Linked DNA regions of Homo sapiens: region 2 is linked to region 1. A link means that fine-mapping ties the variant in region 1 to the expression of a gene that starts in the linked region. Tissue or cell type: blood mononuclear cells. Region 1 holds a variant in brackets; the other region holds the start of a gene. All regions are shown on one strand. Distances are from middle to middle.

Region 1 (5,228 bases):
CTTCCCCTTGTGGTTTCTTCTTTGGCCCATTATTATTTAGGATGGGTTTTTAAAATTATCCATATAATTCATGAATTTCCCAAATTTCGTTCTGATTTTAATTTCATTCCATTGTGGCCACACAACATACTGTATGTGATTTAAGTGCTTTTAAATTTATTGAGGCTTGTTCAGTGGCCTGAAATTTGATCTGTCCTGGAGAATGTTTCATGTGCACTTGAGTAGAATGTATACTCTGTTCTTGCTGCATGGAGTGTTCTGTAGATGTCTGTTAGAATATATGTGTTCGTTGTGTTCAAGTCTTCTATTTCTTTGCTCGTCTGCCTAGTTGTCTATTATTGAAAGCAGAGTTATTAACGTGTCCAACTTTTATTTTTAAATTATCTGTTTCCTTCATTTCTGCCAGCTTTTGTTTCATGTATTTTTGGGCTCTATTGTTAGGTACATACATATTTGTAGTTGTTATATCTTTCTAATGGATTGACCCTTTTATCAACTATCCTTTCTCTCCGTAGAATGAATTTTTAAATACATGCTTATTTTAAACAGTTTGTGCAAAATTGTATTAAAGTATGTAAAATAAAAAACACATGCATATAACCCCCAAACCTGTAGAAATCAGTGTTAACAATTTATGGTGTATCTTTTGAGTCCTTTTAAAATAAACTTACAAATGTTCTTTAAACAGAAGAATCATAGTAATAATGTTCTGCAGCTTTTCAGAAATTAAAGCCGCATTAGATCCCAGAGATTACCTAATCTAAAATACTTCTTTTCAAAAATGAGAAAGCTGAGGCCAGAGAAGGGCAAGTAGGTGGCCAAGCTGGGACTAGAACCTGGGTCTCCTGACTTGCTGCAGTCAGGAGCCTTACTGAACCTTAACTGCCTCCTGGAACAAAAGGGTCTTGTAATACTGTGACAGATACATGGGCCATGAATGGTTATGGCAAAATCATTTTATAAGTTATACTTTGAATTAATTTTGAAGATTTTATCTAATTTTTTTTATAGCTTCTTGTAGAAATTCTTATGAGGCCTACGATCTCTATCCGGGGACAGAAACTGAAAAGTAAGTATACCTATTAGCTACTGGTCCTTGTTTTCCAACCTGCCGATACGGTGGCAGTTCCCAGCAGCTGCCTTCTTCCTTCCCTTCCTAACTCTTAATAGTAAGGACATGTCTTACATTTAGCTACAGGTTGCTCTCTCCTCCCCCAGCTAAGCAGCTGTCTTTATTCATTCTGTACTGCGTAGAAATTCAGATCTGGGTTAAGAGAATGCATCTTTGTACTTTTGATAGTCCTGTGATCCAGCTTCTATGTTTCCTTGGGAAATTCTTCTTTCTCACATATAACTAGCTGAGAGAGTAAGATCACTCTGTTTTATTTTTTTTAAACTATTTTTTTTAGAAAGGTGATACATGCTCTTTGTAAAAAGTTCAGGCATTACCAGGGTGTGAATGGTAAAAAGTCAGAGTGTTTTGGTATGCACTATTTCTTAAGCTGGGTGGTAGATATATGGGTAATATTCTATTATTATTTTTTATAACTTACACGTTACAAATAATTCTTTTTAGGTATTCAATTTTTTTTTTTTTGAGACAGTCTCTCGCTCTGTTGCCCAGGCTGGAGTGCAGTGGCATGATCTTGGCTCACTGCAACCTCCGCCTCCTGAGCTCAAGTGATTTTCCTGCCTCACCCTCTCAAGTAGCTGGGATTACAGGCGCCCACCACCATACCCGGCTAATTTTTGTATTTTTTTTTTTAGTAGAGATGGGGTTTCACCATGTTGACCAGGCTGGTCTCGAACTCCTGACCTCAAGTGATCTGCCCACCTCAGCCTCCCAAGTGCTGGGATTACAGGCATGAGCCACCGCACCCAGCTTCGGTATTTAATTTAAAATAAAAAAGTGAATGCACTTTACTCTGGTGTTAAAAGCCAGAGATGACTTCAGTTAATGTTTGGTGAATGCCCTCCTACCAACTTTGCGTTTTTTTAATTTAAAAGATTTTTTTTTTACCCCAATACGACATACTGTATAAGGCCTCATTTGTGCATGCAGTAGTGGTTATTAAGAGGATTTATATTCATTTTTAATGTCTCAGCTGTGTATTCTAACTTGGTCTTTCATGTTCTCTATGTACCCTCATAGCAAGTAGCATATTGTAATTATTTGTTGGTGCACTTGTTTAGTCTCTCTTCTTCCCACTAGATTTATAGGTTCCATGAAGGCTGAGACTTTTTTTCCCTCACCACTGTATCTGCTCTAGAGTAGATGCTGAACAATACTTGATGAATGAGTGAATCCCAATTCCTTTTAAAAATGGAGGATCTAGAAATAGTGAGATATATAGTGAGACATGCAGAGCAGTGTTTCACCCTGCTCTGAAGTCGTTAAATAAATCAATCACAGAGCCCCAGTAGGTTGAAAGGTGGTGATAAGGGATGCAGAGCGTCTGCGTTGTCTCAGGATTATGAGACAACCCATCTAGTCAAGCTAGCTTGGCAGGGCTGCCCATTGGGATCTGAGAAGGAGACCTAGCATTTTAGCATTCCTAGCAGCTTAGGAGTGAATGGAAACAATTTTAAAAAATAGAAGCAAGTGCCAAATAAAGCACTTTGTCCATGGTTCATACTCAGTTTCATCATCTTTTGGTTTTGGGCTCATGAAAATTAAGTTTCGTTTTTATGCTACTTTCCTGTTCCTGCTCACAGGGAAGTAGTAGTTTCTTTATAAGAATTAGT[A/C]ATAGATCAGACATTAAGAGCCATTTGCCCAACACAGATAACAGCAACAAAAAAAGAAATGCTCAGTTAATGAGTCTGATAAAAATGGTATTTTTGTTTGCTGCAGTAGAACTTTCAATGGAAATTTATAACAAGAGCAATTGAGATGCTTATACTTTTAACTTTTAGCCAGGCGTGGTACACGCGCATGCAGTCCTAGCCACTCGGGAGGGTGAGGAGGGAAAATTGCTTGAGCCTAGGAGTTCGAGACTACAGTGAGCTGTGATTGTGCCCCTGAGTGACAGAGTAAGACCTCATTTAAAAAACCAAAACAAATGAACAAAAAAAAGATGCCTATACTTTAGATTCTAGTAGTTCTACTTTTGAAAATGTATCTTGAGGAACTAGTTTAATACAAACATGAAAAGGATACACATATATATTAAGTTGTTCATTTGTGGTCTACTTAAATAGCCAAAAAACACAAAAAACAAAAAAAACAAATCCTAGATATATCCTAAGCAAGACATTAAGGGAAAATGGCTTTATTAAATGATGGCACAACAACAGGTTGAAATTATGAAGACTGTGGAGCATAATAAGAAAACAGCTGCTGTATCAAACCAAAAGCAATATGCAAATGGGCTTGTAGGTTCTGATGGGCACTATGAAAACCTTTGGTAGACAGGGGCTGGAAGAAGTATATTAAAGGAAAAATAATCATCTTGGAGGGGATTATAACAGTTCTTATGCTGAAAAAAATGTGGTAACTGTTGTACTATCTTTTCATTGAGAAAAATAACCAGTCATTACCCTTTCACTTTCAGTAAGTGATGAAATGTCCAAGGACTGCTTGAGTATCCTGTATAATACCTGTGTCTGTGTAAGTACCCCTGCCACTGGGGCTCTGTTTATCTCCCCTACCAGGTCTGCAATGTTTAAGATGGGAATATTCGAGTAGAATGGCAGACATAAGAGCTGCTTTCAGACAGTGGGGGAATCGGGCTTATTTTATGTGTGCCTGAAAATCAGGACTAACTGGTAGAAATTACGGGGAGGCAGAATTTTGTAGCAGTTGTTAAGAGCCAGGACTGCTGCAGCAGGTAGTAAACTCCTTTGGCCTTAGAGCTGTCCAAGTAGAAACTGGACACTTGTCAAAAGGTGACAAGTGTTGGCAGACTGTGACCTTTAAGACTCATTTTAACTCCATTATGCCTATTTCTTCATTTTCCTTGTTAGAAAACAAAATGAGAACCAGAAGCCCCGCCCATATATTGAGCAGGACTCTACTAGGTTGACCACTGAGCCAGGAAGAATGGTGAATAAAGAAAGCAATCTGGTAGAAACAAAAGAGGATGGCACTTAGTGTTAGGACCTGATTTTGTGTTCTGGCCCTTGGCTTAGTACACCTCCCAAGCCGTAGTTTCTTACCAATAGAATGCAGTTAGCAGTTGTATTAACATCATAGATTTATTGTGAGAAATGAGATAGTAGATGTGAAAACACTTTGTAAAACAATATATAAATGTTAGTTTTTAAAAGATACAGTACCTGTCTTTTAGAAACTTATGATAAACTGTGTAAACTGTGAATCATAATACATGGCAGAATGAGACGAGCGCTATTATAAATGTGAACCCTGTATGCTGTGGAAATAAAAAAAAAAAAACATTTAGCTCCATTTCATTTCTTGCCTCATTCAAAATAAGATTTCTGACATCTTGTGGGTGTATGCAAAATCTACCAAGATCACGAACTTAGAAGCAGGTAAGAAAGAAGAAGATAAAGGTGGGGACATAACGTATAGCCAGGAATTGGGCTGATATAAAAATGAAGACCATAAAATCATCTGTATTACGGATGGGCACAAATTTGGCTTCAAGCTTCTTAGCAGCCAACACAAATAGGGGAATATGTTTGAACACTTACGTAATTCAGCATCTATAATAGTGCTGTGCAATTGAAATATAATGCAAGCCACTTGGGTTATTTTAAATTTCCTTGTAGCCACATTTTTTTAAAGAAAAAAGTAGGAAGAAGTGGTGAAGTTAATTTTAATGATAAATTCTGTTTAACACAGTGTATCAAGAATATTGTCATTCTAACATGTAATCAGTATAATTAATTATTAATGAGATATTTACTTGTTTTTCGTATTGAGCTCTCAAAATCCAATGTGTGTGTGTGTTTTGTTTTTCTTTCCTCTTGTTTGAACACCCAGAGCACATCTTAGTTTGGCCTGGCCACCTTTTAAGTGCTCGGTAGCCATGTATAGCCAATGACAGAGATAGGCACAGGGAGATCTATAAGATAAAATTTCAAATTGTTCAGGAAATGCACAGTTCTTGCAACTAAGGCCAATAAGAAATTGTCCTTATAGAAGAAGACAGTGTATAATATAATGACTCCATCTTTGGCAACTCCATATAGTCACTAGTTTTATGAGGCCGTTTTAAAATCATGATACCTAATGTTAATCAGTGACATTCCAATAAAACAGTTAA
Region 2 (5,228 bases), 37 kb before region 1:
CTCAGCTCACTGCAACCTCTGCCTCCTGGGTTCAAGCGATTCTCCTGCCTCAGCTTCCCGAGTAGCTGGGATTACAGGCACGTGCCACCATGCCTGGCTAATTTTTGTATCTTTAGTAGAGACGGGGTTTTGCCGTTTTGGTCAGGCTGGTCTCGAACTCCTGACCTCAGGTGATCCACCTGCCTCGGCCACCCAAAGTGCTGGGATTATAGGTGTGAGCCACCGCGCCCAGCCGGCTTACAGGTTTTTAATGGCAGGAGGGCAGAGGCCACAGGCGAAGTCATAAATCAATACATAGGGGCTGTATATTGGTTCCACCTAAAAAGACAGGACATCTCCAACCAGGGGCCCACAAGTGGATTCAAAGATTTTCTGACTTGTAATTGGTTAAGGAGGTAAAGCTTTGTCTAAAAATTTGGGATCTGCAGAAAAGAATGTTAGCTCTGACTTATGGTCGTGTCCTCCTCCAGGCCCCCTAGGAAGAAATTTATAACAAAAAATAGAAGTCAAAGTTTAGTTCTCAGCTCTCCCTTATCTGAGTTTGCCTATCAGCAGATCCATTTGGTGGGGGTTCGAGTTTCTAAGAAACAACACTCAGGGACAAATTTTAAGATGTTATATTCAGTTTCTATAGGGAACAAAATATCTCCTGACTGTAACTTCTTTGGCTATTTTTTTTTTTTTTTCTGAGATGGAGTCTCATCCTGTCATCAAACTGGAGTGCAGTGGCGTGATCTCGGCTCACTGTGACCTCTGTCTCCAGGGTTCAAGTGATTCTCCTGCCTCAGCCTCCCAAGTAGCTGGGACTACAGGTGCATGCCACCACGCCCAGCTAATTTTTGCATTTTTAGTAGAGATGGGGTTTCACCATGTTGGCCAGGCTGGTCTCGAACTCCTGACCTCATGATCTGACTACCTCGGCCTCCCAAAGTGCTGGGATTACAGGTGTGAGCCACTGGGATTACAGGTGTGAGCCACTGCACCCGGCTGAGTTTATTTTTGTATAATGTGAGAGATGAGGATCCAGTTTCATTCTTCTGCATGTGGCTTGCCAGTTATCACCAGCTGTTGAATAGGGTGTCCTTTCCCCACTTTATGTTTTTGTTTGCTTTATCGAAGATCAGTTGGCTATAAGTATTTGGTTTTATACTGTGTTCTCTATTCTGTTCCATTGGTCTATGTGCCTATTTTTATACCAGTACCATGCTGTTTGGGTGACTATGGCCTTATTGTATAGATTGAAGTCAGGTAATGTGATGCCTCCAGATTTATTCTTTTTGCTTAGTCTTGCTTTGGACATGCAGGCTCTTTTTTGGTTCCATATGATTTTTAGGATTCTTTTTTCTAGTTCTATGAAGATGGATGGTGAGTCTACTCCTTTTAGATGGGGTGTGAGGATGGTAACCATAGTGCCAGTTCACCTGGGAGAGTCACTTTTATGCCTACCGTCCCGGTGTAATTATTTATTGTGTCTTTTCATTCTTTAAAGTGTTCTGGTTTGAGCAGTAAGTTACAGTCATCTTAGTTATGAGTCACAATCTTCACCATTCCCTGTTACATCACACTTAGCTCTCCTCTTTCATTTTTATTACAGGCCCCCTGCTAGGAAGGGAAAAAGTGTGTGTGTGTTGGGTGGGGGGAGTCAGTGCCATCCTGCCACAGAAGTTAGCTGAAAAAATGAGTATTAGAGACAACATGCTATCTGGTGGATAGAAATTAGGACAGGGTTTTCATCTGACAGAGAATATGATGTCACAATTTACTAATCCCTTTCCCTTCCATTATTTAATTTCACAACAACCTACCCAGTTACACAACTTATCCAGTTTGAGACTGCGTTTCTTTGTGTATGGATCTGCTGTCTTCCCCTGTAACCTGCATTTCGTGATAAAGGATCCCAGGCCGTTCTGCTCACCACTGTATCCCAGACACCCTCCCTTTCCCCTAGACATGGTTTGGTGTCGGGCGCAGAGAAAGCCCCAGGAACTACGATTGATCAGGCTCCCAGAATCTATAGATGGAGTGACCTGACGAGGACACAGGCGCAGTGGCAGAGCGCGATGACTTGGTCGATGTCCGCGGTGAGTCACGTGTAGAGAGAAGCAGGCAGGAAGCGGACTCGAGGGCCTGACTCCTGACCTGAAGCCCAGGATCATTTCTTGGCCAGCTGCCTGCATCCTGCCCAAATCGGCGAGAGAAATGGGAGAATGTGGACCTTGGGAGATTTCGCCGAAATGCTGGGCCCGGGGGCCAGAGAAACCGGCAGTGCAGGAAAGGCCACATCTCTTTTCCCACCTACCCCGCTGCCGCGCAGGACTACAATTCCCAGTAGCCTCCACGCCGCACACGGTCCCTGCCACGCGGCTTGCGCCTCCGCCGACGGCCCACTGGGGGCGCTGCGGCGACCCCTCCGCCGCCCCGTAGAAATCTCCGCGGCCCCGAGGCCGCTTGCTTCCTGTTTGTCCGACGAGGAGACATGGCGGCGGCGCCGGTAGCGGCTGGGTCTGGAGCCGGCCGAGGGAGACGGTCGGCAGCCACAGTGGCGGCTTGGGGCGGATGGGGCGGCCGGCCGCGGCCTGGTAACATTCTGCTGCAGCTGCGGCAGGGCCAGCTGACCGGCCGGGGCCTGGTCCGGGCGGTGCAGGTACGAGGCTGGACCAGGAGGGGCGGGGCGGGGCGGACCAGGCGGGAGCTGGCGGGGGGCCGGGGAAGAGGCCTTTCCAGGCCGCCGCTGGACGGGCCAAAGCCCTTTTGGCTGGCCGGAAGGCCTCCCTGTGAGCTGCCCGGACGCTCTCAGCTGCAGCGGGGCCGTGGGAAGCAGCTGGCTTGATGTCCCTTGTCAGGGGCCGAGCGGGGCTGGGCTGCTGTGGACACTGATGGCGTGTACGAACCCTGGGCCCAGTTTCTGGATCCTCCCTTCTTTGCGCCACGTCTACACGTCTGGGGGACCCTGTCGTGTTTGTTTTAGCCTCTGTGGGCCTCGAGTTTATCCCGTGTATTGGGCGTGGGGGAGGGGGTCATCATTGCAGCCCCCAAATGGTTCCCGAGCATTTCATAAATGTCATTTTCTCAGGCCTTTCCTTGACACTCTTTCCTTCCCCTTTCTAAAGTAGGTCCCCATTGTTATTCTGTCACAGCCGCGAATTCGTTTCGTTTACATTACTTTCTTAGTCTATAATTTCGTATTTCTTTGTTGTCTGCCTTTTTCTCGCCCGTCTCCCACATTAGGCTGAGTTCCAGCGGGTGCAGAGACTATATCTGGTTTGCTAGTGTAGAGCGTCACGGTTAAGAGGGACTCTGGAGTCAGGCCTGGGTTCAAAGCCCTGCTCCTCTCTCTTGCTTGGGCAGGTGACCTTTCTGTGCCTCAGTTTCCTCACTTGTAAGATGAAGATGAGAATTAGTAACCTACCTTTTAAGATTGTTGTGGAGATCAAAGGGGGCAATTGTGTAAAGCATTAGTGCATTTCTGGTGCATACTAAGGGCTGAAGGTAGTTAATATTAAGCATCTGACTTATAACAGGTGCCCAACATATGATTATTGTTATTTTTGAGTGAGCGAAGGACACTGCTTTAGGGTAAACCAGGTTGAATAGGACCTAGTCCACTACTTCTTCCACCCTCCCCCACCCCGAACCTTGCTAACACCTGTAAAACATTAGCTTTATTTAAAGACAGCTTTTTCATAAAAAGTTTGAAGGATACTCAAGAAACTGATAAAGTGGTTGGTGGGAGTGAGGTGGGAATTGGGCTAAAGGGGGAGAAAATGGGAGTGAGACTTTTCACAGTGTAACTTTATTTAAATTTAATTTGAATATCACTTCCTCAAATGACGAAAAGGATAGAATAAAATAAAGGCTAGGGGGTCTGTGTGTATGGAGGACTGTGGACGAAAGGAGCAGTTGTGAGTGAGAAATGTTTTCCTGGCCATCACACAACCATAGATGAGCAGCCTTTTTCCCCCTTGTGTTCTTAAGACCTGACTTAAGACCCTGTAATCCCAGCACTTTGGGAGGCCGAGGCAGGCAGATCGCTTGAATCCAGGAATTCGAGACCAGCCCAGGCAACACGGCAAAATCCTGTGTCTCCAAAAATTTAGCCGGGCATGGTGGTGGTGTGTGCCTGTGGGGAGGCTGAGGTGGGAGGATTACCTGAGCCTGGGAGGCGGAGATTGACAGAGTGAGACCCTGTCTCAAAAAAAAAAAAAAATCCTAGAAATACTTGCTCTTTCCTTCTTAAGCTAAGATACCTTACCGAGCTGGGTGTGTAGAGACAGGCAGAAAGAGGACTAACTTTTAGTGAGCACATAACCTTTAGAAAAAGTACGGTACAAGGCATATGTTATCTTTAATCCTCAAGCTTTTGAGTTATGCTTCAAGACTCATTTCTTAATATGGATGAGGAAACTGAGGCTCAGAGAGGTTAGATGATATGTTCCTAAACACCCATCCTGATAATCAGTGTTCTGAGAATAATAGGGAGCCACAGAAGTTCTTTAGCATGATAAATGAGGCAATTTAGGCAACTTAATTTGTTTCCAGTGCTGAATGACTTAGAATGGGAGGAGCCTAGAAAAGCCCACCAGAGGCTGGGCACAGTGGCTCATTCCTGTAATCCCAGTGCTTTGGGAGGTCGAGGCGGGTGGATCATCTGAGGTCAGGAGTTTGAGACCAGCCTGGCCAACATGGCGAAGCCCCGTCTCTACTAAAAATACAAAAATTAGCCGGGCGTGGTGGTAAGCACCTGTAATCCCAGCTACTCTGGAGGCTGAGGCAGGAGAATTGCTTGAACCTGGGAGGTGGAGGTTGTGAGCTGAGATCACGCCACTGCACTCCAGCCTGGGTGACATAGTGAGACTTCATCTCAAAAAAAAAAAAAAAAAGCTCACCAGATACAAGGCTGCTGGAATATTCTGGAGCCACAAAAGCAAGGCAGGTTATTGTGGTAACTGATGGTTGTATATAGGTGTGGGAGCTATTTCAGAAGTTGAAGTAGAGACCCCCTGCCTGGAGCTATAGTGAGGATAAAATGGGGACCTTCATCTTTCAAATATTTCTTTTCTTAGTTTTTTTTTTTTTTAATTTATTCCATGCTGTGCCCTTCCGCTCCTCTCTCCCATCCTGCAGAATAAGTTATTTGCTTACCCTTTTTTTTTTTTGAGACAGAATCTTGCTCTGTCACCCAGGCTGGAGTGCAGTGGCAAGCTCAACTTCCTGGGCTCAAGTGATCC

Evidence for each region. PIP is the estimated chance that this variant, and not a neighbour inherited with it, causes the effect.
Region 2: TRPC4AP starts here. The variant in region 1 is fine-mapped to the expression of TRPC4AP in blood mononuclear cells (TOPMed, PIP above 0.99). The same link has a PIP of 0.9 or more in monocytes after LPS and monocytes after R848.

What each region holds. Positions count from the first base shown.
Region 1 is chr20:35,053,355-35,058,582 of GRCh38, reverse strand. It overlaps TRPC4AP (transient receptor potential cation channel subfamily C member 4 associated protein), which reads left to right. Exons shown (of 19, transcript NM_015638.3): 4 at 1,012-1,069; 5 at 3,552-3,607. Among named protein-coding and RNA genes, the nearest start is that of TRPC4AP, 37 kb to the left of the region's middle. RefSeq lists an enhancer at 2,586-2,695. The variant A/C (reference allele first, on the strand shown) is at 2,746.
Region 2 is chr20:35,090,030-35,095,257 of GRCh38, reverse strand. TRPC4AP (transient receptor potential cation channel subfamily C member 4 associated protein) reads left to right here and starts at 2,451. Exons shown (of 19, transcript NM_015638.3): 1 at 2,451-2,644. The coding sequence starts at 2,477. RefSeq lists a silencer at 2,550-2,679 and an enhancer at 4,206-4,765.